4 linked regions of the Homo sapiens genome follow. The protein of the gene in region 1 interacts with the protein of each later gene in a pairwise test. Each region holds a gene or a part of one and is shown on either strand. Other genes may lie near its edges. The genes, in order: PTCHD1, PON1, ZNF277 and KLHL32.

What was found.
Region 2: the proteins of PTCHD1 (region 1) and PON1 interact in a two-hybrid assay, tested with the Homo sapiens proteins (one study listed by BioGRID and IntAct).
Region 3: the proteins of PTCHD1 (region 1) and ZNF277 interact in a two-hybrid assay, tested with the Homo sapiens proteins (one study listed by BioGRID and IntAct).
Region 4: the proteins of PTCHD1 (region 1) and KLHL32 interact in a two-hybrid assay, tested with the Homo sapiens proteins (one study listed by BioGRID and IntAct).

Annotation. Positions count from the first base shown.
Region 1 is NC_000023.11:23,337,849-23,344,876, forward strand, and holds part of PTCHD1 (patched domain-containing protein 1), read left to right. Parts: intron 1-7,028. UniProt on the Homo sapiens protein: Required for the development and function of the thalamic reticular nucleus (TRN), a part of the thalamus that is critical for thalamocortical transmission, generation of sleep rhythms, sensorimotor processing and attention. Can bind cholesterol in vitro.
Region 2 is NC_000007.14:95,314,506-95,321,533, reverse strand, and holds part of PON1 (serum paraoxonase/arylesterase 1), read left to right. Parts: intron 1-3,140; coding exon 3,141-3,211; intron 3,212-4,744; coding exon 4,745-4,800; intron 4,801-6,043; coding exon 6,044-6,212; intron 6,213-7,028. UniProt on the Homo sapiens protein: Hydrolyzes the toxic metabolites of a variety of organophosphorus insecticides. Capable of hydrolyzing a broad spectrum of organophosphate substrates and lactones, and a number of aromatic carboxylic acid esters.
Region 3 is NC_000007.14:112,335,688-112,342,715, forward strand, and holds part of ZNF277 (zinc finger protein 277), read left to right. Parts: intron 1-416; coding exon 417-484; intron 485-2,042; coding exon 2,043-2,139; intron 2,140-4,155; coding exon 4,156-4,198; intron 4,199-5,184; coding exon 5,185-5,359; intron 5,360-5,367; exon of another isoform or gene 5,368-5,435; intron 5,436-6,873; coding exon 6,874-7,028. UniProt on the Homo sapiens protein: Probable transcription factor. Involved in modulation of cellular senescence; represses transcription of the tumor suppressor gene INK4A/ARF, perhaps acting via the Polycomb group (PcG) complex PRC1.
Region 4 is NC_000006.12:97,109,706-97,116,733, forward strand, and holds part of KLHL32 (kelch-like protein 32), read left to right. Parts: intron 1-4,077; coding exon 4,078-4,804; coding exon of another isoform or gene 4,805-4,863; exon of another isoform or gene 4,864-5,038; intron 5,039-7,028.

The sequences.
Region 1 (7,028 bases):
CTCTTAATGTTTTGGGATTGTACCTGTGCAGTGAAGGAGATCCTTCTTGGGATATTGGTCCCACTATTTGCTGACAAAAAAAAAATAGACTGGGAGGGAGTGATGACAGAAAACGAAAAGCCAGGTTGACGTTTTTAAATGTAATTGAGAGTATTACAGAAAAATATCTGTATTTCAAAAATCCAGCTGATCTGGTTTGGAGGAGCTTTCTCGAATATGCGCAAGTGATATGATTACCATACTCTGACCACTGTAGCTTAGAAGTTGACCCCACACTGTGAGGCATGACTCCCCCCAGCGTTGGTTTCCCCTGAAGGCTACAGGGCAACGATGCATTATTAGGCAAAAGTGGGTAGGACCTGGTGGTGCTGATAAGGGCTCATGCAGTAATTTCTGAACCTCTTTACATACATGCTGCTCTTCAAACATCTTCCTTTTCCTAGAAAATTAAATTTAGCTGATTATATCTTTTAACAGAAGATCCATGATGTTCATCTCAAAGCAAATTTCAAAGGAGGGCCTCACAAGCTTTTATAGATACGTTTCGTTGCGATCACCTAAAATGAAGTGTAAGTAGGTCCCTTTGATAATTGATCCAGGCTGTTAACAAAACAATTCTTGATTTATTCCGGAATCATCTATTTAAAGTGAAGAATCAGTACAGCCCAGTACTTATGATAATGACATCATCTTTATAGGACTTTATAGGTTAGAAATATACAGTATGTTTAAATACAGTAAATTGGGAAAAATGCTATATCCCATTTTACATATGAGAAAACTACTTCTTAGAAGTTAACTGACTTGTCCATGGGAAAAAATACAAGGCTAGAACCAGGACTGGACTGGACCCAGGGTTTTGGACTCCAAGCCCAGTGTGCTTTTCATTGTAATTTACTTTCATATGATACACTACTGGAATGATTTAAAATGTACATTTTTGTTATCCAAATGAAGTACAGTTGACCAAAGTTTTATATCCCATCCCATCCAGTTGTTCTAATAGTGGTAATTGGATCATAAGAATATTTTTCTTGACTGATTCTGTCTAGTGTCAATTAAAATCCACATACAGAAACTCCAAATACCCAAAGTAAAGCATAAGATATTTATAATTAACAATATACAAGGATAGAAAGAAGATTTTTTTGGAAAAAAAATCTCTGGATGATTGAATGTAGCTGCTTCCTGATTGAGTGCTGCTCATTGGCAGGGTCCAGGTTGACTGAACTTTAGTGCCTTACACACTCCCTGGCACATAATAGCTACTCAATAAATACTTGTTGAATAGACCCTCCCTAGTTTACTCAGACATTTATGTGATGAGTTAAAGAAAATTCCATAAAAACGAATTTGAAATGTATTTACATAGTGAAATTTTTATTTTTACAACTTTACAGACAGTTACTAGGATTCTTTGTTTGCAAGATATCATTCTTCCCTCCTTGATAACCCCCGTAGTCATATCAAAGCGTATTTCAGTTTCAAAATTGGGTAGGGGAATTGCCTTTGTACAAAGTCCTCTTCTTCAGGGGAAACTCAGAATGTTTTATTCCAAACCACGGGAAGGACGCATCCTCACATAGCAAACATTCTTCCATTTACTAGGAGATCTCATTTCGCTCAAATATCAAGTTTCTGTTTTACTTAAAGCTTTTATGTTTAAATACATTAAATAGAATTAAGTTGCAAACAAGGTTAATAAAATCTAACCTTAAGTTATTTACTTCAGGCTTTCCAAGAAGGGCAGCATAACTGCTAGCTCGGGGTCACAAAGACTGGGTAGCTAGATCAAGATCATAGTTTTTCCAAATGCTGTCTCAACACTTGCAATCACTATGGGAATCACCATCATTTCTTCCTCCACAATCTAAGGATCAGCAAATTTCAGCCTAGTTTTTAACGTAGACTGAGTTTTTACAGTTTTAAAAGATTATAAACACAACAAAACAAAAACCAAGAAAGCTATATAGCAGAAATTGTGGCTCGCGAAGCCCGAGAGATTTGCTATCTGTACATTCAAAGTTCCTATGTTGTATTCTAAAATGTCATTACTAGAGCACTTTCAAGAAGTTAATACTGTGAATCTGTAAGGCAGTAGTTCTCAACCGGGGCTGACTGTGCACCCACCCAGGGGACATCTGGCAATGGCTGGAGACATTTTTGGTTGTCACAACTTGGGGAAGAGGCATGTGCTACTGGCATCTAGTGGGTAGAGGCACAGCGTAGCCCCCACAACAACAAAATTACCCAGCCCCAAATGTTAATAGTGCCAAGGTGGAGAAACTCTCTGCTTTGCATGTTTCTTTTGTTTTATAAAGATTCTTTTTTTGCTACTTTGATTATGTAAAATGAAAAAATGCCAAAGAGAAGTTCATAGAACTCTGGGGACAACTATTATGACCTCTGAGGTGATGCTCTCTTGGGCAGTTGAGCAGAGACCAGATTTTCCAGTGTAATCGTCCCCAAAATGCAGTTATCTTGCTCTCTTCGATGGCTCTGTCCCTTCAGGTCTAAATCCCACCTGCTGTAGAGGAGCCCAAGAAACTGAATGCAGTATAACTGCTTGAATGACGAAGGGGCTAAGTTGACACTGGCCTTTGAGACTTGTCCATTACTAGAGTGCCCATTATTGGCATGCCTTAAGCATCAGTCAGCAGCAGTCGCCCACTTAGGTCGGGCTTCTTCTGACAGTGTGTAAGACCCCACTGTGAGCAGCGACCTGAGGAGGCAGGAGGCAGTGCTTTGTTGCCTATTCCAGTCTCTCTGCTTTTCCAAGTATAAAATGACAAGAGAAGAGCTTGTATCAAAGAAACACGGAATCAAAGAACCTTCGGTTTAGAAGGCACCTTAAAGGTCATCTCCACAGAGGCTGATGCTAGAATCTTCTCTTAGCATCTCAGGGTGCTTTGTTTGGTGACAGGTGCTATGAAGCCTTGGGCAGTCCAGTCTCTTCTGGTGAGTTATCCAAGTGGCAGATACTCTTAGAAAAGATTGAGCCTGGGCCTGAAAGGGCAGCATTTGTGTATTTGCTGGGTCAGTCAATTGACTTTTACTCTTTATTTTTGTACTAGGGGAAAATTAAGGAGAGACTGAGATCGGTTTTCATTCTCCTTTCATTTCGTAGGTAGTGTATCCGAATAATCTAAGCACAGTCTCATCCTAGGGTTGTCTGACTTTTAAGTACATTTGATTTTTGCGATTAGTATGTAAAATGCCCACTTGTCTCATTTAGATTTGGGGAGCAGTCTTTTAATTCTCCATTTAGGTACACATTTGAGACAAACTTTGATTAAACTGAAATTTAGATATAAAGCCTTAGTGGGAGAGGAAGCCCACCTTTGTAATGACTCATGGCATCTTGATAGATGCCATATTAGAGTTAGGAAAGGATGATTCTATTTTAAATGACCACAAAAACTGAGCCTCTCAGGATTCACCAGACCTATAAAGCTCACAGGACAGTCAAGCATTGAACTGATGACTCCTTAAAAATACGAGAAGGAGAAGTAAGCTAACAGAAGTTATTTGTTTTCTACCTGAGTGTTTCCAGTCCCTTGGCACAAAAGCCAGGGAAATGTGAGATGCTGGTGAGCTGATCAACTTTGACTTTGTGGGATGTGCCATCTGGTACCTGATTTCGGGGCTCAGTGTGAGCCCCAAGTGATACTTGAGATAGGCTTAAAGCAGACCTTTGAAGTCACCTGCTTGATAGCACATCACAGCAAGCAGGCCTGTCTGCAGCACTGCCTGTGTCTCCGCCACATACCCGGAAGGCCACAGAACTACCGAGGAATCCTGCCAGACTGATTTAATGACCAGCAGGGGAGGTGAGTAATCGCTAACCTTTAAAAGACAAGAAAAGGAAAAAAAGAAAATCAACACCAGTTGTTATTTCTTACGGGAAGCCCTGAATAATATGTTGTGCTTGCAACTTCTGAATTCATATTTTGAACAAAAGGAGGCAGTGAGGAACTAGAAAAAGCTATTTTTATCTTCTTGCTCTCTAAGAAATCCTCTTGAGAATATTGTTTCTGCTATTTTGAAAGATCCCCATTGTTAGGTCTTCCACTTTAGGTTTAATTCATAGGCTTCAAGTACAGTTAAGATGATTTATGTAAGTGCAGTCGGTTATCTTGGGAGGTGATATCAGAAAAGGCTGATAGGGGAGTGGGGAAGTAAAACAGTGAGTAGCAGGAAGCCAATCAAGAGAGTATTATTAAGCAAGTGTCTACTGTGGGCAACTGGGGCTCAGTCTCACTAGGGAACTCTGGGAGACACTGTAGAATGTGTTGGAGAAATCTCAGTTGTGGATAAAGAAGCTGAATATTTTCTCCCCAACTCCAGCCATCATCGGCTGATTCAACTACATTTAGAAGCATTAAATTTCTGGCATTTTCATATGCTGTGTTTCTCCCTATATATATATATATATATATATATATATATATATATATATATATTTTTTTTTTTTTTTTTTTTTTAAAAGAATTGGGTACAGAGCTACAGGTGTTTGTGGCAAGCAACCTTAGCATGGAGAGGTGAGTGTGAGCTGAGACTATATGGGTGGGACCCTGAGAGCATCTGCCCTAAGGGTCTTATATTCATCTAGAGTTATACATCGAGAGATTTAGTGCCCCGTTTCTAGGGAATGGATATTCATCCCTTTACTCAACAAGATGGCTATGACCCTGTCTCCATGAAGCTTACAGTTAAGAATCATCCAGCATAGCTATTTAGTTATTCCCAAGTTTGACAAGTGCCAGTGGATGCTGGTAAAGATGACTCCAAACAGGGCCTAGACACCAACAGGATGTGTGGTTTTAGATGCCAGACCTCTACATTTGAGAGGCACATATTCATTCTCACCTTTATGAATACAGAAGTCTGCAGGCCCCCATCTTCACACATCTACTTTTGTTGTTCTCCCTAAAAGTGCCCTCCCTCCTCTCTTTAAGGACCAGTTCACATGCCTTCTACTTTATGAGGCTTTCTCAGATTCATGGCTTCTTCTCTCCCTTAAATCTATTGGGCTTTCATTCTTATACACATTCTTTAATGCAGAGCTGTAGACTCTTATGTAATTTGCTATATTGTCATGTGATCGTTTCTCTTAAGAGAGGTAATGAACTCTTCAGGGGCAGGAACAATGTCTGACACTGCCAGATCTCTCCTAGAGCCTAGCATAATGTGGAGTTTGCAGCAGGTGCTTAATAAATTGTTACTGGTTTATAGCTTGTAAGATGGAAAATGTGCTCTGCCTCCCTATTGATTTATTTTGGTCAAATATAATTTTGCCTGGTAGCATGACCATGTGATTTCTTGTGCTCTATATTCATTTTTCATCTTTGACAAATCTTGGTTTCAAACTTGTTGATAAGCAATAAGCATCCATTCTGTTTCCAGATCTGCTGCCATTTATATGAGGAGAAATTCTTGGAAAACCAAATATCTGACAACCTTCTCTGGTCCAAGTACAGTTTGGGAGGGTATGAACTTGACCTCAGTCCCCAATCAGTGGTGCATTTCCATGTGGGAGGGTGGATCCCTGTGCAGTTCCCAGTGAGCACCCTGGAACCCAAGTCCCCACACTACACATTCCCTTATTTACTTAAAGAAAAGTCTCAAAACATTGGCCACACCCATATTCAAATGTAAATAGGAAACACACTTAAAAGAAAACATCAAGGACAAGTGGTTTTCCTGACCATAGCACCAGTGTTCAGGAGATCACCATTCTGATGTTGCTTAGTCCCACTCTTCTTAAAAGTTAGCCCAGAGGAACAGAAAGTATTGTTCTAAGAGGCAAACTTAAAAGAAAATGATACTGGTACAAAATCAGCATATTTCTGTGAGTTTAATGGAAACACTAAAACTGCTAATTTTTCAGCGTGGAAGATAAAGATTCCTTTACCCATTCCTCCATGAGGCTCTCCTGCTGTCACTAATACCATGGCTTTGTCAATTCTTTCTAATTGTCTCAAGAAAAAATAATGCATCTCTGCTATAGAGCTGTCATTATAAATGCTCAAGAACATTTTGTGATATTTATACCTTAATTGTATGAGGTTTGAGTTGTTGGATTTTGTTTTTGGTCTTGTGGTATAGGCAAGTAGTCCTACTGAGTAAAGATTGTTTGATTGCTCTCAGACTTTCTAACATGCACACACGTCACCTAGGCATCTTGCTAAAATACAGACTGATTCAAAGGGTCTGGGGTGGGAACTGCAAGTCTGCATTTCTAACAAGATCTGAGGTGATGCTGATGCTACAGATCAGCAGAACACACTTGGAGTAGCAAGGCTCAAATTTAACTGTTGTAAACAGAAAACTGGATTTAGAATCAGGAAAGCCAAGTTCAAGTTCCAGTTCTCCTAAGTATGTATCTTTGGGCAAGTCACCTAACCTCCCTGAGAAACACGCTCCTTATTTGCACTGGGTGTAATAGCATCTCTTTCACCCACTTAAGGTAAAGATAGAATGAGATAAAGTATGTGAAGGCACTGTGTAACCATAGCCTTCTGTAAAGTGTGTTATCATTATTACTATTTACTTTGAAAATGACTGCTATTTCCTCACATGTGCCAGCTCTTTCAAAGCCATTATTGCCTGTTGAGTAATACACATGTAGCCACTTTTTTCTTTGATCCAACAGGCAATAATGGGTGCTCAAGCTACATTCAATACTCATATTGCCAATTTGTTGGTCTTTAATGACTCCATCTGAGTCATTACAGACAATTGGATTCAACCTACTGCTGAGCATGCAGCTCCTCTACCTGCAGAAAGTTCTTAGGCAGGCAGAGCTGCGGATGGGGATGGGTGCATTGCATTCCAGCACACCAACGTGGTTCCTCTGGGCTCAGAACCTACTCTTCATGCCTGATGGGGCTTTGCACACAAAAAAAGCCTTCACTTCCTGCCCAGGGAAGTGCCTTTTGAATTAAAGGTTCTGAGAGGCTGCGGGCTCTGGTTTCAGGGCTCTCCTCACCACATCTCACAGCACAGCATGCCAAAGAGGGATTCTC
Region 2 (7,028 bases), on another chromosome or scaffold:
ATGAGGAAGTATGTGTGAGAGCCCTTATTGGAGCTTGGCACATAGTAGGCCATGAAAAGCAATTTGAATGAATGAGGCGTGTGTAGTAGCAGAAAATAGACTGATTAGAGTGAATTTGGCCCCAAGAAGAGTTTGAGAATCGATACGGATTTCTTAATGCCTAGGCAAAGATCTCTGCTTTTTTCTGCGAGCAGCCAGCATGTATTTTCACCGAATACTTCTGCCTTGGTTTGGATGTTCGTCCTCTCCAAACCTCGTATTTGATCTCTAATGTTGGAGGTGGGGCCCAATGGGAGGTGTTTGGGTCATGAAGATGGATCCCTCATGAATAGATTAATGACCTCCTTGGGAGTGAGTGAATTCTCACTCTATTCATTTCGAGAGAGCTGGTTGATTGAAAAGAGCCTGGTACCTCTCCCCTCTCTTACATTCTCTCTCATCCCATGATCTCTGTGAGTACTGGCTTCTCTTCATCTTCTGCAATGAGTGGAAGCAGCCAGAGCCCCTCACCAGATGCAGATACCCAATCCTGAACTTTCTAACCATCCAGAATCATAAGCCAAATAAACCTTTTTTCTTTATCAGTTGCTTAGCCTCAGATGTTCCTTTAGAGTGACACAAAGCAGACTCAGACAAGTTCACAGCAAAGGCTGTATGGTTTCTGCGCAGAGTTCAGAGTCTAGTGAATCAGAGATATATCTCAGACATTGACCCTTATCTCTTAGGCCCAGAACATTTGGACTTAAGCCTTTGACAAGATATTTCCTAATAAATTGAAAATGAGGTAGAAAAAATATGAGTTGGATGATAATAACACAGGTGGGTCAATTTTCAGGTGCATCTTCCAGCTTTTAAGCAGTGTTCTCTGTAGATTTTGCCTGGTCAGAGAGCTAAATGTGAGCTTTGTGTTCATACTTGAATTCCAATCCCTGCTCAGCCACTTTATAACTCTGTGGCCTTAGAAAGCCACTTAATCTTGGTCAACTATAACTTAGGGAAAATAACACCTCACGGAGGTGTTTGAGGATTAAACGCGGGCATATACGGTACCTGAACTATAGTAGTAATGATTATCCTGTTGAGATATGACATGTTTGGGCCACAAATTGGAACCCAAATCAACAAGTGCTGACTTAATGCCCCCTTGCCCACCCTGGGCTCCCTTTAACTGTGATTATTCTATGTTTTCCAGGCTAGAGATCATCTTCTATGAGAGAGAAGCCTGAATTAGAATAGGAGCTGACCAGTTCTGCCTTTCTCCATCTTTTGTGAACCCATATGTTTAGTGACCCTTGTGAGTCAGGCAGCATGAGTATTCTTCCCATTGGTTTTGAGTCTAAGAAAAGTGAATTTGACTATCCTTGGTGTTTTTCACAAGTCTTGGCCCATTCAGTGATTTTATGTCCTTGAATCTCTCCTTCCATGCCAGTCTTTGTGTTGTCCTCGGTTATGACCATCACCCTTAACATCTTGTACCTGCCCTTTGGTTCCTTGAGGGCATGCTACAAATATTCACTACACTTTCCCTAGACCAGAGTTTTTTCAAATGGTGGGTAACAAAGTCAATTTAGTAAATAATTACCAACATTTAAAAATAAATAAAACAGAATTGAACAGAAAAGTTATGAATGTATGACACAGATTAGGATGAGTATTGTTTTGTGAAGCTTGATTCAGATGTGTATGTGTATGTGTGTGCATGTGCTGGGTGTTCGCACCATATAAAATACTTTTCCTACTGTGAGTCTCTGTCTGAAAAGTTTGTAAGCCACTGCTTTATCACTTCCCCTTTTATTTCCTTATTGTCAATATTTGCAATTATAATGTCAGATTTTCATTTTGAAAATACCTTTCCCTTTCTTAGGTTATGGGACAGATTCCAACTTTCCTTTGAAGCCTGCTTTCTAAGTTCACATCTATCAATCAGGAAACCACAGTCTCCTCACAGTCCAAGCCTTCATCATCTATTCATTCATCTCTGTATTTCTAGTACCTAGACTGGTGGCTCTTTACTCTGGTTATACGTTGGGACAAACTGTGGCACTTTTACAAAGCAGATTATTAAGAGGCACTCCTTGCCTCTTACGTCAGATTTTTTTAGACAGCGAAAATGATAGCCAGTGGCCTGATGGTAGGAATGTACTCATTTTTTTCTGAATGAATAAATGAAAGATCAATCACCCCCAAATTCCTATCATTTTGTACCACGTCGGTAAGAATTTTATCTAGCGTGTCTGTTCCGCCTGTAGCCCATCCGCCTCCTGTGAGTTCAAGTCATCAGGAGGACAAGTAAATTTCTTAGCCTATCTGAAGCCAAATAAGATTTCTAGGGATATTTGGATAATTGTCACTACTTGCTATGACAATACTGTATCACTAGTTCTCTAAAAAAAAAAAAAAAAGTTTATTGTTTAAATCTCTTGGTTGTGCTAACGTCGTCTGTTTCTTTCAAATGCAGCATCAGTAGCTTCGCTCTGCTCAGGCAGCCGGCTGGCACTTCCTTCTCACATCTGTTCATTTTTCCTTTGTCCTTTACTCAGACATTTTCTATGGTGTTTATGCACTCATATCTAATAAGTCGCTCCTGTGTATGTGTGTGAGTGCACCTGTGTGTGTGAAATGCCTTTTTACATGCAGGCCTTGTGTATGATTTTCTGAAGTTACAAATCCTTTCAACGTACCTGTATTTTTCAAGCACTACATCACAAAGCAGATGCCCAGTCCAGGCTGCGGAGTCAGATTGGGCAGATGAGTAGGAGGCTGCCCATCTGTCAGCAACTCTAAAACATCAATGGAATAAACTGGAACCATGTTGCCATTTACCCGGACTTTCCACCTAGGAGTCCTTACACACTGATGAAATTGCTCCTGTTCCTGCCAAAGTACACAGAGCCCTAGAGAGGATATTATGTATCTCTTATGTGTACCTATCCACCTCTGCTAAATAAAAACTAAATATTGTACCCAGAGTTCCCCACTTGTCTTGCCCTGGCCTTGCCTGGAAAAATTGCAGGAAAAACTCTGGAGTTGAAACTCAGGCAAAGTACAGTGAAGGAGAACTTTTGTGGACTGCCTACCTTTGCAACTTATTATAATTTCTGAATAGTTTTGTGTGTGTTTTATTTCTTTCTCCCCCACAGAACACGACTTAATGCTCTCCGAGAGGTACAACCCGTAGAACTTCCTAACTGTAATTTAGTTAAAGGAATCGGTATGTATGTGAGAGGAAGAAGGGTCTCATTTGAACTTCCGGTATTTTTTTGCTCTTTGTGTGATTAATGTGCCTGTTCAATTCTGTCCAAAAATAAAATTTTGAATCAGGAGAGTCAGTGGTAGTTAATGATAAATACCATGTTGTTTGACTTTTGACTTCACCAACATACTGCCAAGGTGTTGGGAGTTTTGGTTGTTTGTTTTTGTTTGATCAATAGAGCAAAAAAAAAAAAAAGAAAAAAAGAAAAAAGAAAAATAGAATAATGTTTGATTCCATGGCAATCTAACCTGAGGAGATGGCAGAAGAGGGGAGGGAGAGCCAGATAAAGCATTGAATAAAGGTAACTTTTTTTTAGAAAGGCTCTGACAGGACTTTGCAATTACCACAAGGCTTCTCCTTATGCATCTCTCTTTTGATATTGGACAGGAAAATTTTTTCCAGAAGCTCTCAGCAGATTTCCCCTTAGATCTTATTTGTCAGAGCTGGAGGACAGGCTGGTGCCCTAGTTGCAAAGGATGCTGGGAAAGTAATTATCAAGCCTCCAATGTGGGAGGCAGGCCCTGTCAGCAAAGATAAAACGGTAGGAGAATAGCAGCTGGGAGGCAACCAACAAGGAGAGTCCCCGGGCTCAACTCTCCAGCTGGTTCCAACCAACCAGCTTTGTTATTTGAAGACAATTGGTTTGAGATCATGCTTTTGTGTGCTTTGGGTGTTTCTTTTTCTTTCTTTTTTTTTTTTTTTTTTTTGTTCTTTTAGAATTATTCATCTCAGTTGATTAAGGCTCAGGAGGCTAGATCAGATGACTTAGTACCACTAAATTTCACTAGATATCTTATGGTGCGATTGTTTTCTAGAAAAATATGATATTGATATCAAATATCACTGGGTTTTTGAAAAGCAAACTTTCCACTAAGTGTAGAAATACCTATCAAATAGTTCATTTTTCTCTAGATAAATTGAAATGTTAAAAATTTACATGTACTTAAAGTATAACTAACTTGAAGACAGTAATATTTAACCGATGTTTATAATTAGTAGTAAAAATTCATATTCTTGATCACCTAAAATGTATCCCCATTTTAACTCAACTATTTGGAATTTGCTTATATCTTCAATATGGCTTTCCAAGGGTTTAATTGATTTGGAAGTATTAAGTATCAACATATATTTGTAATTTACCTTGTATCTTTAGAAAACAAGTTCTTTTCAAATAATCATGGCTTTTGTACGTTTTGTGAATTTCCATGAACTTTAAGAGGATTCAGTCTTTGAGGAAAAAGCTCTAGTCCATCAATTTAAAACAAATATACTAAGTGTAAATTTTAATTAAACTTGTTAATGAATTAATATATTTTTAATTTCCATATAATCGCATTCATCAATTTGAATAAATGAAAGAATGAATTATTCTGAACCTATTAAAGAAGAGTGATGTATAGCCCCAGTTTCAAGTGAGGTGTGATAAAGAAATGGATCCACATCCTGCAATAATATGAAACAACCTGTACTTTCTGTTCTCTTTTCTGGCAGAAACTGGCTCTGAAGACTTGGAGATACTGCCTAATGGACTGGCTTTCATTAGCTCTGTGAGTGTTTTCTTTCACTTTTCTGTGTTCTAGAACGTTTTCTAGGACTGGCAGTTTAAGTCTTTCACTTAGGCTTTCTGTATACCCATGCCCACTTTCAAATAAAATGAACAGTCATGGTTTAAAAGACAAATTGTGTATGCATTTACACTTGTGCTATAATTATGATCATGCGTGTTCTATGCATATTTGTGTTCTTCGGTCTACATTGAACCATATTACGTTAGCTTCTATTGCAGCAATTTTTTTGTGAGTTCAGTGTATTCAAGAATTGTTTTCCTCTCAATTGTCTATTCCCTAAGCACTTAAAATTGCCATATTCAAATATTTGCTAAATTAAATATACATTTAATGTATACTACTTCACAGGTCATTTCAACTTTCACATTTTTAAACAAATTTCAGAATAAGCCCTTTAATTTAAAATTGTTGATAGGTCCCAATTCCCAATTCCCAAGCTTTGAAGACAGAATCCACCATATTTGCTGAAACTGTCCTGCATATAGATCGCTATGGTAGCTGATATAGTGCAAAACAAAAGAAGTCCACCATCTGGCCTAGGGATCATAACATAACAGAGTTGATAGGAAACGACAGACAATCATCCAGCCATTTAAAAACCTTTGCTACCCCTTGTAATTTACTTAGTCCAGTTTTCTCTTACAAAGATGATAGACTAGTCATCCTGCAAAGCAATGTCTTGCAAACTTTCTTGAGCAACATAAGGTGTATTTCAAGCAAAATCTTATATGGGAACACAATATATAAAACAACAGCTTTATTGTTTTGATTGAAGGCTAAGAAAGGAGTAGTTCCTCTGGCCCACCAAAACTCTGTCTTTGAGATGCTTCCAAGGACCTACCAGGGAACAGTTTAAAAGCCATAAGCAATATTCTCTCTGTATTCCTTGCTTATATCATTGAAGACTATTATTAATTGCCTTTTTGGTCTGCTCTTCCATTTTTGATCTTTCTCATGGGCTGGAAGCTGTAGTGTCGTGCACATATGACTTTGCTGCAGGGGATGAAAGGGTTTGTGTGGGGTGGCCTAGTGGAGCATGTGGCTTCCAGAAGACTTCTCCTGGGGACCCATTACAGAAGCTAACTAAGAGGCTTCCTATGTGGCCATCTGGCTAGCCCTGTGGTTTGGAGCAGTCAACATGAACCCATGGGCCATGCAGCGCCTCTATTAGCATTTGAAGTACTGGTATTGTGCTTGATTTTTCTCCTCCATGGTTTATAAGGGATTAAAGTATCCTGGAATAAAGAGCTTCAACCCCAACAGTCCTGGAAAAATACTTCTGATGGACCTGAATGAAGAAGATCCAACAGTGTTGGAATTGGGGATCACTGGAAGTAAATTTGATGTATCTTCATTTAACCCTCATGGGATTAGCACATTCACAGATGAAGGTAACAATATTTACTATTTATTAAAACCAAAACCAAACTTAAAACAAAAACAGAAAAACATGCCAATAAATGAATTATTTTTTCTCATTCAAACAAAGCATAGTCATGAATAATGTTCTTACTCTGGGTTTTAAACTTACCCTCTATGTTAATTGAACTTTATAGTAAAACCACTTAAATACTTGAGAATGCTAAAATATTTAAGATTTGTAAAGCATCTAATTTTGTAAAATACTAACATTCACATTATCCCTATAATTACCATAATAATAATATCCAGCCCTGATCATTATAGCTTTTCCATTTTAAACGATTTTCAAGACTCGGGCATTTACAGGAACAGATTTTTCTAACCCAAGGCATCTGTAAGCTATAGGTCCAGTGACAGAAAGTCACCATGGTCAGCTTTCTGCCGGTCCCATTATCTTCAATGCCTCCTGTCCGCTGGTTCCTCTGTTCTGTGTTCAAAATGCTCCTCTGCATGTTGGTCCCTTTCAACATAACTTGGTGTCATCCTTTATGTCTTTACTCCCTTTCTCCCTTTCCATTTGCTGTCACTTCCTTGTCTCTGTATTAATTTTCAGCCCCAGTTGCACAATGGTAGCACCTGAAGAGTTTAAAAAGACTCGATGCCCAGCCCCCAGCTTGACAGATTCCAATTCCGTTAGTCTGAGGGAGGCCTGGATCACAGTAGTTGTTAAAAGTTTTTCAGTTGATAAAAATGTCAGGCTAGGGTTAAGAACCACGTTTATACCCATTACCTCCATTTCATCATCAGACGATCCCTCATTCAGTTCCTCTTCTGGACTTTCCCCA
Region 3 (7,028 bases), on another chromosome or scaffold:
ACTCAAAAAATAGTTTATAGTAATAGTACCCACTGTATGCCAGGCTCTGGAAATGTAACAATGAACAAAGGCCATTAGAATCCCAGATATTCTAATACTCATTCAGGGTTTAGAAACACTGGTTCAAATTTAAGAGAAAAGAACTTGACTGAAAGGATATTGCTGCTTCTCTAAAAAATTATCTCATTAAGGTTTCAACTTCATATTGCTTTTGCACTGTCATTAAGTCAAAAAAAAGTGTTGAATCAAACCATCATAAGTTGGGCCATCTGTATATCCTACTTGTACTGTTTCAAAACCATTTAAACATGGGTGGTTTTGTTTATTTTTTTGGTTTTGATTTTTTTCAAAGTTCTACATACTCTCTCCCTTCTCTTTCCCCCAATGTCTCTCATCCCTCTGTTCTTCCTACAAAGGAACTTGGAAAATCGTGGGAAGAAGTTCAGTTGGAAGATGATCGGGAGTTGCTGGACCATCAGGAAGAGTAAGAGTTGTTATTGCTGCTAATTAATTGCAGTGTTCCAAGAGTAAGAAGACAATGCTTTAGTTTGGTTTAAATTATGAAGCGGGAACATAAGAAGAAAAAAATACCTTCTCTGAGCCATGCATCCCTTCATGTAATGTGGCAAAAACTTGAATTCAAAATAACTTTGACATAAAAATTCCTAAAGACACTGTTATTCCAACTAAATTAAAGCTATTGATTGAACACACAAGTAATATATAATTCAGAGAAAAATACATTCCGAAGTGCTTTGCCTGCTCAGTTAGTGCTCAGACCTTGAAGTGATGTGATCTTTGAACTCTCCATGTTGCTGTCATTGGAATAGAGAATATAACTGCATTGAAGTTAATCCTGTTCTGTGTTCGGGCCATTGATGACTAACTTTAAACATTCACAGCTTCTTTGCTTGAAATTATAAGCTTGAGAAATGTTCTTTTCAACCTAAAAGGATTTCTTATTTTTCATCTTCTTTTCAGTCAAAGCTTTTTGGCCTTTTTTCTCTCTCAGGATTTTAAATTATTATTATTTTAATAGTGAGGTAAAGCCCAAAGGTAGAGAGCTGCCATTTGCTGAATTTTCTTGATGCATAGAGATTCAGGCAGAGAGTCTTCCAGACTGAAATAAAAACATCTTTCCCATTAAGACATACTAGTTGGAATATTTAATCAGTGAATGTTAAAGTTTTAATGACACAAAAGGTTATAAATAGTAAGTCATGACCTGGGCCGGGACTGGTGGCTCCCTCCTGGATGGATAGAGTTAAGGAAAATGTTTCCTGTTTTCTAATAGGGAAGCTTCTGTGTGAATTGGGTTAGGTTGATCTTGAGAGTCTTATCAGTGATCATTTCTGAGCTTGCCATGAAAAATTCTCTCATCTGAATTTGAATGGGTGTTCCTTGTCTCCACAACTCTTCCCTCCTGGCAGTTTTCCTGGTTTGGGAATGATAAGAAGTTGGTAGTATTTCAAAAAGGGAAATGCCAAGGAGCGGGGAAAGTGGTAAAAGGGATCCTGTATCCTTTTTGAGTTCCCTGTCTACCGCCAGATTTAACACTTGCCCAGTTTAAAATAATCAGTATTTCCCTCGTGAAAGAGACACGGTTTGCCTTTGTAAAATACACTATTTGTCATGCAGAAACACATTCCCGGCATCACACCTCACAGCGTGTGCACTCAGTGGTTGTGGTTAATGGGAGAGAGCATCACATTTTCTGATATGTCTCCTTTGCAAATTAAACCTCATTGTCTCAGGACGACATTCCTCTGACTGTAGACTGAGATAGCTACTCAGAAGAACGGCAAATAGGAGAAAATGGAACAGCACCTGTTCACTATGTATATTAATTTCATGGTGCTGCTTTGAATTTCAAAAGCTATATCAGAGAGTCATAATATGATGTGACAGTCTTTACCAAAATGTCAGAGTTGAAAGAGATTGGCAGGGTTTTTTAGTAAGGAGAAAGCAATACCAAGTCACTGTGTAGTATACTCTCTTAATGAAGGGAATCTCCGTATTTTCTCTCCTCTTTTTTAATTCAGTGACTGGTCTGATTGGGAAGAACACCCTGCCTCTGCAGTCTGCTTATTTTGTGAAAAGCAAGCAGAAACAATTGAGAAGTTGTATGTCCACATGGAGGTAAGATACCTGTATTTATTTGAATTTTGTTTTATTCTGACAGGGGAAAGCTAGTAATTGTTGCACCCTCATCTGCTTTTACTTCAGTTTCCCAATCATTATTCCAACCAGAAGAGACAGGCCAGGTCTGTCAGGGAGAACCAGAGCTCAGGGCAATTTAGTTAGTACAGTTGACTGGACCCGAGTGAGCTGTTTGTTAGTGTGAGATTTCTCAGACCACTGATGCCATCTCACCTTTGAGATGCTTACAAGATCATTCTAGCTCAGCAGGTGGGACAGGTTCTGAGTCTTTTTTCCAGTGCTTCTTGTGCTGGTGAATAGGAGAGCAAGAAGGGAGAACATTGCCATTTACAAAGGTCCCGGAGGAATAGGGAAAAAGGAGGGTGGGTAGAGAGGAGCTAGGGCATGATCCTACAGTTCCTTCAGGTGCCAGGATTTAGAGAGAAGAAACTAGGGAGCATTCCTAGTGTGGGCTTTCCCTTCTGGATGCCATTTTTATGTTATAGTGAAGCTTGGAGCTAGCAGTTCTAAACCTTTTTCACCCCAGTATACCTGAGAGAGGACACACACCCTGCACCTCTGATCCTTAGCTGCACAAGGCGGATAGGGAAGGGGAACATGTAATGATTCATGATAGTATCACAGCTTGTGGGCAGAGGGGTGATTATAATAGAAAAATATTACTGGATGATTCTGATATCTCTCCGTCCCCTCCCTGCAGCCACCTCTGCCAATAGTGGACCATATTCTCTACTTTCACCCACTTTCACCTCACCCTTATTCAGAAATACTGTTCTTAGTTTAGTAAAATAAGGGCCTAGAAAGCGCTCAAAAGACCATAAACATTTTCCTTGATTTTAGTTTCTCTGAAAAAGGTTCCCACTAGTATGTGTGTATAATTTCCTGTGTTTAGATTTAATTCATAATATCTTAATGTCTTTGTATTGAAGGCAGCCTTAGTATGCCTATCCTGTGTAAGGATTACCTTTTCGGCATCCTTGACAGGTGTCCTTAACCTCTGCTGGGTCACTTTCAGTGATAACATCACGAATTCCTAATCATCCTTCATATGGTGCTACACTAAATGCCATCCCAGTGAGTTAAATGGTCTTTATCATCTGTGAGATTGTAGGTTAAAACATTTACACAGACAATTGCAGGTGTCAAACAAACACGCAAAAAATAAGTGCATTGTAAAAATCAAAAGAAAGCGTGATTTATAGGAAGGTGTGAGTGAAGAGAAGCTTTGAGGTTTAAACAGTGTATTTGACAGCATAAAATGAAAAGCAGAATTTGTAAAAATTACCTATGTGGGGCAAAGAACCTATATCCATAATTCTAGTCCAAATGCACAGTACAATAGAAACATATCTTACCTACACTTTTATCACACTGCAGAATGCATACATAGACTTCTACATTTTTAGAAGGCTACAAAATGGATAACATTGTAAATTATAAAAACTATAGATATAAGCTATGAGCAATTATAATGTTGTTGCTGTTCTTTGATATGGAGTCTCGCTGTGTCACCCAGGCTGGAGTGCAGTGTCACGATCTCAGCTCACTGCAACCTCTGCCTGCTAGGTTCAAGCGATTCTCGTGCCTCAGCCTTCTGAGTAGCTGGGATTACAGGCACCCACCACCACACCCAGCCAATTTTTGTATTTTTAGTAGAGACGGGGTTTTGCCATGTTGGCCAGGCTGGTCTCAAACTCCTGACCTCGGGTGATCCGCCCACCTCGGTCTCCCAAAGTGCTGGGATTATAGGCGTGAGCCACCGCGCCCGGCCCAATTATAATGGTTTAACTGATTGACATGACTTGTTTGGACTATGCTGTAAAAAAGTTGGGTATGGAGGGAAGTAGTTAGACTTGGAAGACTTCAAAAGCAGAAGATACCGAACTCAGACTGAGTTTCTAAACTACTCAAACTCCTGTGAATAAGTTGTTTATAACTTCAGCCTGAAAGATTAAATAATTCATATGCTTACAGATGTATTCATTCCTTTTTTAGGATGCACACGAATTTGATCTTCTCAAAATAAAGTCAGAACTTGGTAAGTTTGATTCAGAGGTTTTTTTCTGTGATGCTTCATTTTTTATAAACCATCCTGTAAGCTATGCCTATGTTCAGTAGCTATGATTGGAGAGTGCACCACCAAAACATGTCTCTCTATAGATGGTCTTGACAGAACTCTCTGTGAAGCAGTGATGCTCAACCATAATAGTCAAATATGGTTTTTGGTTTCATATACTCCTTCTTTCTCTTTCCTACATATATGAGTGCTTCAAGTGAAATATAAGTTAGTGGTTAATAATATATCATAAATTGGAGGGGGCTAGTGGAATATGGATTTTTAAGTCAAACTAGAGTTCAGATTCCAGCTCTGGCACTTACTGGCTATGACATTGGGCCTCAGGTCAGAAAAATGTTATGAGGAGTGAATAATGTATGGTAAATGGCTACTGCACTGCTTAGCAGTATAGCTAGGATTGTTTGTTATAGGTGTACCCAATGTATCATTCTAAGTATCACAACAATAGAACGATTTGGGGCATTAAGACATACGTAAAGTACTGACTTGCTAATAGATCTAAGACAGTAAAAAACTTACTTCTCACAGCTCAGCTCAGTCACTGCTTTCCTAGGTCCTTGGATGTGTTACTTTGCTGCTTTTATAGACATATATATACATTGTTTATATAATTAGCTTAGTAGTCAAGCATGGGCTTTGCAGCTGACAGCTATCTATGCGATGCTAGGCAGTTTCCTAATATGTAATGTAGGTATGATACTACCTATCTGATAGGGTTTTATGAAGATTAAATGTATTAATACATGGAAAATTATTAGAATAGTGCCTAGCTCATAAGCCCTGTGTAAATATGTGCTGTTATTATTTGGTATCTATTATTATGCTTTATAATTGTACTGCCTCTTCAGGTTGATTAATAAAAATAAGTGGCTCCTTTAAGAAATTATAATAGTGCAAAAAATGGGTCTGAACAGTTGTCTAATGATTCTGTATTTTGTCATTTTCAGGATTAAATTTCTATCAGCAAGTGAAACTGGTCAATTTTATTCGGAGGCAAGTTCACCAATGCAGATGTTATGGCTGCCATGTGAAGTTCAAATCCAAAGCAGACTTAAGAACTCACATGGAAGAAACTAAACACACTTCGCTGCTCCCCGATAGAAAGACGTGGGATCAACTGGAGTACGTACTGCAAAACCAAATGTGCACTTCTTACTCCAACTCTTTGATTTTGTCCCTTTATTTAATTTCTTTAAGCCTACAGAAAAAAAAGGAATACATATTTATTATAAAAAGTATACATCAGTACAGTGTGGGGAAAAATGTAAAAATATTCAAAATGCTTATTTTTAAAATAATCCCCCTCTTACAAATGAAACCAAGTATTTTTCAGTATTTGTGATATGGAGATAGATACATATGTAGAGAGATGAAGTAGATACAGATTTTTTAAATTATATTTTATTAACAAAATATTGTAAATATCTTTCAATAGCCAGTATCCATCTGTTGCATCCTTTCTAATGGTTGCTAAATATCCATTGTATGGATATAATCTATTCTGCGAGATACTTAGGTTGTTTCTTACTTTTTGCTATTATAATGATACAGTGAATCTATATGCCTACATTTTAGCACACTTATCTAATTATTTAATTAAGCTGAACTCCTAGAAATAAAATTACTATGTCAGAGTTTGCACACTGCTAGGACTTTTTGTATATATTTTGTATATTGGCACTTGAAAAAATTAAGCAGTTGGTCATCTGTTGTTGGATTCCCATGTATCCTTTGCCAGAACTTTGTGGACTGGTTCCCAAGTATCCTTTGCCAAGAACCTTCTGGACTGGTTCTCACATCGTTCTGGATAACCTCAGTCGAGGGCTCCTCTGAGAGACTGTGGGGTTCTAGCTGCCCAGAGCTCCTTCTGTTCTTAGGGAATGTTAAGTCAGTTCCCCCAGAACTTTAACCAGAAAGTTCTAGTTTTTCTCCTTCAGAAAATCCCACACTTGTGAGGGTACCCTGTTTTTATGATCCTTCTTATATAAATTAAAATTTGTAATATTCCAAAAGTAACTTCAAAATGTATTCAGAGAAGGAACCAGAATAACAAACTTTATATTCCGTAAGTGTTTCCTTTTGTGATTACCTAGAAAGAAGGAACTATTAGGCTGGAAAACAAAACACAAGGAAGAGCTTATTATTCTCAATTATTTGAATAATTTGTGTTTGAAAAATTAACTATATTTGAAGTTTGTTAACTTATAAGGAAGAACTAGGACCTTTGAGTAGAAATGAGAAAGATGTCATTTTTAGCTTCACAGGAGGTGTATCAAACAACTAGATCTACCCACTACTGGGGTCAGCTACCTTCGAAGATAGTGTGTTTTGTTATCATGATAGATGATCAAGCAGAGGCTAAGTGGCCAGCGGACAACTCCAGAGGCAACTCTGGAGGGTGGGAGGTCCACGATCTTGGTTTACCAAATCTGGATAGTAGATTTGGTAAGGTTGATGTCAGCCAGTAAAAGTCAAAGTGAAAGCAATCAGAAGTTGTCTCCAGTATAGCCTTTGCAAAATGCTATGAAATTGTTGGCAAGGATACCTGACAAAATTATAGTAAATGTGTACATTCAGCTACCTGGACACTGTATTAGCTTGGTAATTTAATACTATGTATCTGTGGTTGTTTTCAGGTATTATTTTCCAACCTATGAAAATGACACTCTCCTGTGTACACTATCTGACAGTGAAAGTGACCTGACAGCTCAGGAACAAAATGAAAATGTTCCCATCATCAGTGAAGATACATCTAAACTGTATGCTTTGAAACAAAGCAGTATTTTGAACC
Region 4 (7,028 bases), on another chromosome or scaffold:
GAGAAAAATAATTAAATGGGCAGCACTATGCTATAAAAAGAGCCTATGGAGACATGGATATTTATCTAATGTCTCTAGTGCTGTTTCCGGTAGTATCTATGTGGATGCAGAACTGTAAGGATATAAGAATGCCAAGAAATTGGTTGCAGAGCAAAGCAATATCAGCTAGAATTACTTGACTAAATTAGGAACAATAGCAAATATTACGTTTCAGAAATTTTTCCCTGGTGCATAAGAAATGACCTTGAGCTGGATGACTTTATCCCTGAGAACTTTTAAAAACACTGTGGGCAAAGAGTGGAAAATTATTTATCAAGTTGCTGAACAATCTCCCCAGAAATAATTGGAACCCCGTGTCTTGAAAATTCCAAGATTAGGGTAGAGAAAATCTAGGGTGCAGCATGTGGGAACTGTCTCCACTTCTGGCAGAGACCTGGTGATTGATGAGTACCATTTTTCCATATCACTCATTTCTTTTGCAATATCTTTGATTATTGCAGATATTACCATACATAGATAATTTTTTGTCAGGTTGGTATCTTATTTAGTTAAAAATGCTACCTTCTATAAAAGCATCTAGAGTGTATCGCTTGTTTGACCTCTACCGTGTCTGCCTCCTTGGCACCTAGCGACATTTCCTTTTTCATTTCTCTCACTCTGTCACTCATTAAGAGATGCAATTCATGACGTAGCAGAAGTGAATTCACTTCCACGTTCACTTCATTCAGAAAACTAAAAAGACAAGCCCAAAATGCATCTTGCCTTTCTGGAGCCCTTTTTCAACTGGATGCAGAAACTCTGAATGTCTGAAATCATCTAGTGCCTTAGAGAGTTTAGTGATTCTTTTCACCGGGTTGAAAACCCAGTTTGTGTTTGCCAAGGAGCAGTGGTCTGAGAATACCACATTTCCTCTTCCCTCCCTCAGTACATTTCCCCTGATCCCCCAGTAAAATCTGTTATCTGAACAGGGAAGCCCAGAATCCTGATTCCATGGTTCAAAAAGGAAGTAAAGCACGATAAAATTGAAGCAGGATATTTTCCTTGACAGCTTTGCAGGCGGGAACCGGAGCACGGGCAATGGAGCTAGCTGGCTATTTCGGTGCCGGCAGGGGCAAACTCAAAACAGAAGCCTGCTGCTGTTGGTGTGGGGATGGTTGTGGCAATTCACATTGTTCTGAATTGCTTATCTGATTGCTGGGCCAAATGCTTATTCTACTTAGTAACATTTCTGAAGTTTGTAGCAAAACCTTAACATTATAAAAGAACAGATAAGGAGCCATTTCAAACCACAAAGGAAGAAAGGAAAGATACCACAGAAAAGTCTTGGGGGGGGGGGGTCTTAGCCAACCACCTGTTACATCTGGGACTGGGTCCAGTCCAGGGGCCTTCCAGCAACACTGAGGAGTGGCCTTGGCCAGATGCCTTCAGTTGCCCCAGGACTTTATTCTGGTCCCACATGGTGGCTAAGCCTCCATGAAGGGAAACAGAGCCAACATTCCTTTCACCTGCAGGAAAGAGAGAGATGGCAGTGTTGCATCCTGTCCCCTGCAAGAGGCATAGCTCAGAAGAAAGTCTGAGGACAAGAAGAGACAGATCTGCATTTTACTCACCCTTCTGATGTATCCTAGGCAGGCTCCCAGAGGAAGATCCTGGGCGGGCCTCCAGATTCCCTGACCCCTTCACGGGCGGGAACTGGAATGCGGGTGCTGGGGCTAGCCAGCCGCTTCAGTGCCAGCAGAGGTAAACTTCACTCACTCGAACCCGCTGCACCCAACCCCTCATGGGACGGAACATGCAGGTGAGTGAGTGCAGGACCTGGCAAGTGCTTTTGGGCACTGGCAGGAGCAAAACTCTGTGCAGGCCCCACCACAGCATCTAGTGGGGAGTGCCTGTAGCCCCCAAAGCTCCAGAAGGAGTGTTATGGTACACCTTCTTTTATCTTTGCCATCTGTGGATGGCTTAAATATTAACAGCTCAGTGGAGGGTCACCCTCTTGGCACCTGAGTTCTTGTCTGGCGTTCAGGAGGAATGAAGTCACACAAACAAGATGAAGACGGTAAATGTGGGGGATTTTATTGCCAATGAAAGTGACTCTTAGTAGAAAGGGGAGCTGGAAAGGGGATGGGGTGGGAAGGTAATCTTCCCCTGAAGTCTGGCCATCCCCTGTTGGACTCCTCTCTGAAGCTATGCTGTCAAGCTGTCCCTCTGAAGTCAAGCCACTTCTCTCCAACTATAGTCTCTGACATTTAGCTGCTGCTTCTCCTCTTGATGTTCAGTCACTTCTCCTCTCTGCTGGCTGTGTCAGGGGTTTTTATGGGTACAGGATGGGGGGGTGGGGTGGATCATGGGTGGTTTTGGAAAAGTCAACATTCCAGCATGAAACAGGAATGTATGTTCTCACTTTGGGCTGCGGTGCCAGGCTTGAGGGTGGGGCCCTCAGTGGGGACCCATCTTCTTCTGCCCAGAATTTCCTGCCTCCTGTCCCTATCAAAATTATTTAATATTCTATTTCTTTGCTTCATTCTTTCCTGCTAATTCCTTCAGACTCACATTCACATTGTCTGGGAGATCTACTTTAATGTAAGTGCTGCTAAGAATAATTCATATCAAATATGTTGACTGAGATGTTAGATATACTTCATTATGCTGGTGTGTGGGAAGGTTTGCCAAACTTAACTATTAAGTCACACTAATTAAATTACTTTAGGTGCTCCATAAATGAATTGTGGTTTTTTCATTGATGATTTTTTTTTTTTCCTGAGATGGAGTCTTGCTCTGTTGCCCAGGCTGGAGTGCAATGGTGGGATCTCAGCTCACTGTAAGCTCCACCTCCCGGGTTCAAGCAATTCTCCTGCCTCAGCCTCCCGAGTAGCTGGGACTACAGGCACGTGCCACCACGCCCAGCTAATTTTTGTAGTCTTAGTAAAGACAGGGTTTCACCATGTTGGCCAGGCTGGACTCAAACCCTTGACCTCTTGATCTGCCTGCCTAGGCCTCCCAAAGTGCTGGGATTACAGGCGTGAGCCACCATGCCTGGCCCTGATGAATTTTTTTAATTTTAAAAAAAAAAAGGAGAATTTCTTAAAACTAAAGCAGGTACATTATCATAAATAACAAAATGAAACAATATTCTTTATTATTTAATAATAAATATATAATTTTATTTATAAAATTATTATAACAAAATTAAACAATAATTTTTATTATGTATGACAATGTACCTGCTTTAGTTTTAAGAAATTCTCTTTGCTCATATCAAAATGTTATAACTCCTTTCCTTCTTAGAAGAGATCTGAAAGGAATAAAAAGGTTAGGATTACATTCTGCTATTATGTTCATAATACAAAGATGATCTCCTCTATATTCTGTTTTTGTGCAAACGACTCTAACAAATTTCCAGTATCTTACATGTGCAAATTACAACTGTCTTCAAGGTAAAAGTTAATTGAGAGAAAAAATTAATAGGTTAGAATCTTATTTTTTCTTTTCTTGCTTCCTGACTGTTATACCTACTAAAGGGATGTGGGGTGGGAGGGGGAGTCTTTTTTCTTTCTAAATCATTCTGCTAGTGTTATGTTGACTTTCTCTCAAGTACACCCTGTGGTCTCAGATGATCACATATTTTCTTACGTTACTCATATTGATACAGCACCTTGGCTTATGGGTTGACATATATTACCTGAGCTTTGATGACACCTCCCACCATTGACATTTCCTGGTGGTGGGGTGTACTGAGCCTCTTATGCATGAAACATAAGGGAACAGGCTGTTTCACAACAGCATTTTCATTCTTTGAAAATCAATTACTGTTCACCCCAAATGGTATCTGAAGCCCCCATCAGTGTTGCTTCACATTGTTTCTTACCCCTACAGCAATGTCTTGAGTGCTTTTGTGTCTTTGCTGAGACGGAAAAAAAGTTCCTCACATGGGCTTCAAAATATTCCAGTTATACTGTTTGTAAGAAAGTTTGTATTATTACCTGCCTGGAAGAATACAGGTAACCTACCTATATGCTGTTGCTTTCTCTTTCTTTCTTACCTTTGTGTCTCCTCTCATCTCACTTCCCTCTGTTTCAGCTAGCTGTGAGGTGGTTGGAACACAACTGCCACTACCAGTACATGGACGAGCTCCTGCAATACATCCGCTTTGGCCTAATGGATGTGGATACTCTCCATACAGTTGCCCTGTCCCACCCCCTTGTCCAAGCAAGTGAGACTGCAACAGCCCTTGTCAACGAGGCCCTGGAATACCACCAGAGCATCTATGCACAGCCTGTCTGGCAGACTCGCAGGACCAAACCACGATTCCAGTCAGACACTCTGTATATCATTGGTGGGAAAAAGCGCGAGGTCTGCAAGGTCAAGGAACTTCGGTACTTCAATCCTGTTGATCAGGAGAATGCTCTCATAGCTGCCATTGCCAACTGGAGTGAGCTGGCTCCCATGCCTGTGGGAAGGAGCCACCATTGTGTGGCAGTCATGGGGGACTTCCTGTTTGTGGCAGGAGGGGAAGTTGAGCATGCCAGTGGCCGGACGTGTGCTGTGAGGACTGCCTGTCGCTATGACCCCCGCAGTAATTCCTGGGCAGAGATAGCACCCATGAAAAACTGCCGGGAGCATTTTGTGCTGGGTGCCATGGAGGAATACCTCTATGCAGTTGGGGGCAGAAATGAACTGCGCCAGGTTCTGCCTACAGTTGAGCGATATTGCCCCAAGAAGAACAAATGGACTTTTGTTCAGTCCTTTGACAGATCCCTTTCATGCCATGCTGGATATGTGGCTGATGGTCTTCTTTGGATATCAGGTAGAACATACCTCATGTTGGATTTATCAAAACACACTTTCATTGTGGTATATATTTAAAAGTCAAGCTTTAATACTGTGGCCATGTGTAATTGAAAGATTGAACCAAGCATGCCATTTTAGCTAATTAACATTCATTTATTGAGCACCTACTCTAGAGAGCAATGTAATTGGAAATAATATGCCTTTCTGTGACTTTCTGAGTGACTAATGGAATAAAAATTCAAGGTGGAAATTGTTGGTCCATCACAACTGTTTTTTTCCTACCAGAACTTCTCCTGTCAGCTCTTGATTATTCATGGATTGTATTGCACAGCTTGTGGTTTATCTAGGTCCTTTGCTTTTTCTTTCACCCCTGGCTACCTGACTAGAGCCATTTCATCAAAGACAAGGCAAGAGAAGTATAAGCCCAGTTAATCCATTTTTCTGGGTATATCAATAGGTATATATCCAAGTAATCACTATGCTGTGCATTGAGAGAAGGGATTTAAGTTACCAAAACAAAGTTGTTGTTGTTGCTGTTTCAGATAGGGTCTCACTCTTGTTACCCAGGCTGGAGTGCAGTGGTGCCATCTCGACTCACTGCAACCTCCACCTCTCAGGCTCAAGTGATCCTCCCACCTCAGCTTCCCAAATAGCTGGGACTACAGGAGCACACCACCACACCCAGCTAATTTTTGTAATTTTTGTCAAGGCAGGGTTTCACTACATTGCCCAGGCTGCCCTTGAACTCCTGAGCTCAAGCAATCCACCAGTCTTGGCCTCCCAAAGTGTTGGGATTGCAGGCGTGAGCCACTGTGCCCAGCCTAAAACAAAGTTTGTTTGTTTTTAATTATCCGTGAATGGTAGTTACTTGTGCCATTCTAACCCTTCATTCCTATTTACTCTCCTATTTTTACTGATGGTACAGTTTGAGCTCTAGTTTACCTTTTCATCTCTTTTGAAAACCTTTTGATTATGGAAAAAGTAGGGAGACTAGAATAATGAACCCCATGTACCCACAACCCAAAATCCACAATTAACTACTCCTTGCCAATCTTGTTTTCTCTACACCCACAGACCCATCACACCCCTCTGGGCTGCCTTTTTGCTTATACAGAAGGAGTCTGTGAGGCATATGCTATCAACATCACATTATAAACATGTGTTTTCAATCTTAGTTTTGAGAAAGGCCCTAAGTGTTCTCCTTTGAAAGGTTTTTCTATCAGGAAGAAAGCTGCATTTTCTCCCAGTTGGAAGATACTCATATTGTAATCCAAATGGAACTTGTTGGATTTCTGTGTCATCAAGCACTAAGAGGAATAGAAAGGGTAAAAAACTTAAATATTAAGAATAACCCTGATGTTTGTACTTAGAAGAAATCATTACTTTTAAGTACACCTGCAAAGGCTTCTCAGCTTTCCTCAATAATCGTCTCTAGTGTTCTAACACCTGCTCTGACAAAATTCTCCCTTGCACTTCTTTAAATTCATTTGGACTTTGACTGTTCTTCTGCTGTCCTCAATAACCAGGAAGATAGTCACAGGCTCAGCTTCTCTGAGCGGTGCCTCAGTTATTGGCAATTCACTGAGTTTTATTGACAGAACCTAGCTCACATCAGGGTTTAAGTGCTCAATAAATTAATGAATGAAGGGAAGACTAGGACTAAGGAAGCAGACAGATGAAGTGGACCCAACATTTACTGGCTCTATACCAAAGAAACATTAGAAACAAGTATGTATGTTAGTATATGTAGATATATTTAAATTAAAACCTCATTTATCTAATTACTGTTCCTTTTTCTTTAAATGTATATTTCAACAGTTAATAACCACCAAGACTATATTCTTTTAGCTGTGCTGGAGAAATTTCAAGCTAGGCAGCAAATAAGTCTTTGCTAACAGAAGGAACAGATCTGTACTTGTCTTGGATGGCAAAACAACGATGGGTTTATGAAATCAATGCCATTTATGTTTTCTCCCAATTGACATTCCTTCCATTGACTCATTTAGTTTCATATATTATTAATATACTGTATTCCTAAATTTTGCACTGCATTTTCTAAGTTTTGTATGAATTTCTCATAAATATTTTAATAAATATTCCTTGTGTTTTGGCTGTAAACCTAGCTTGTAAAAGAATGCTGGGGTTTCCCTTACATAGTCTTAAAGATATGACGATTTAATACCTTCTTCAGTGAGGCCTTAAGAAAGCACAGAAGCTCCTCTTAGACTCGCTAGATCCGT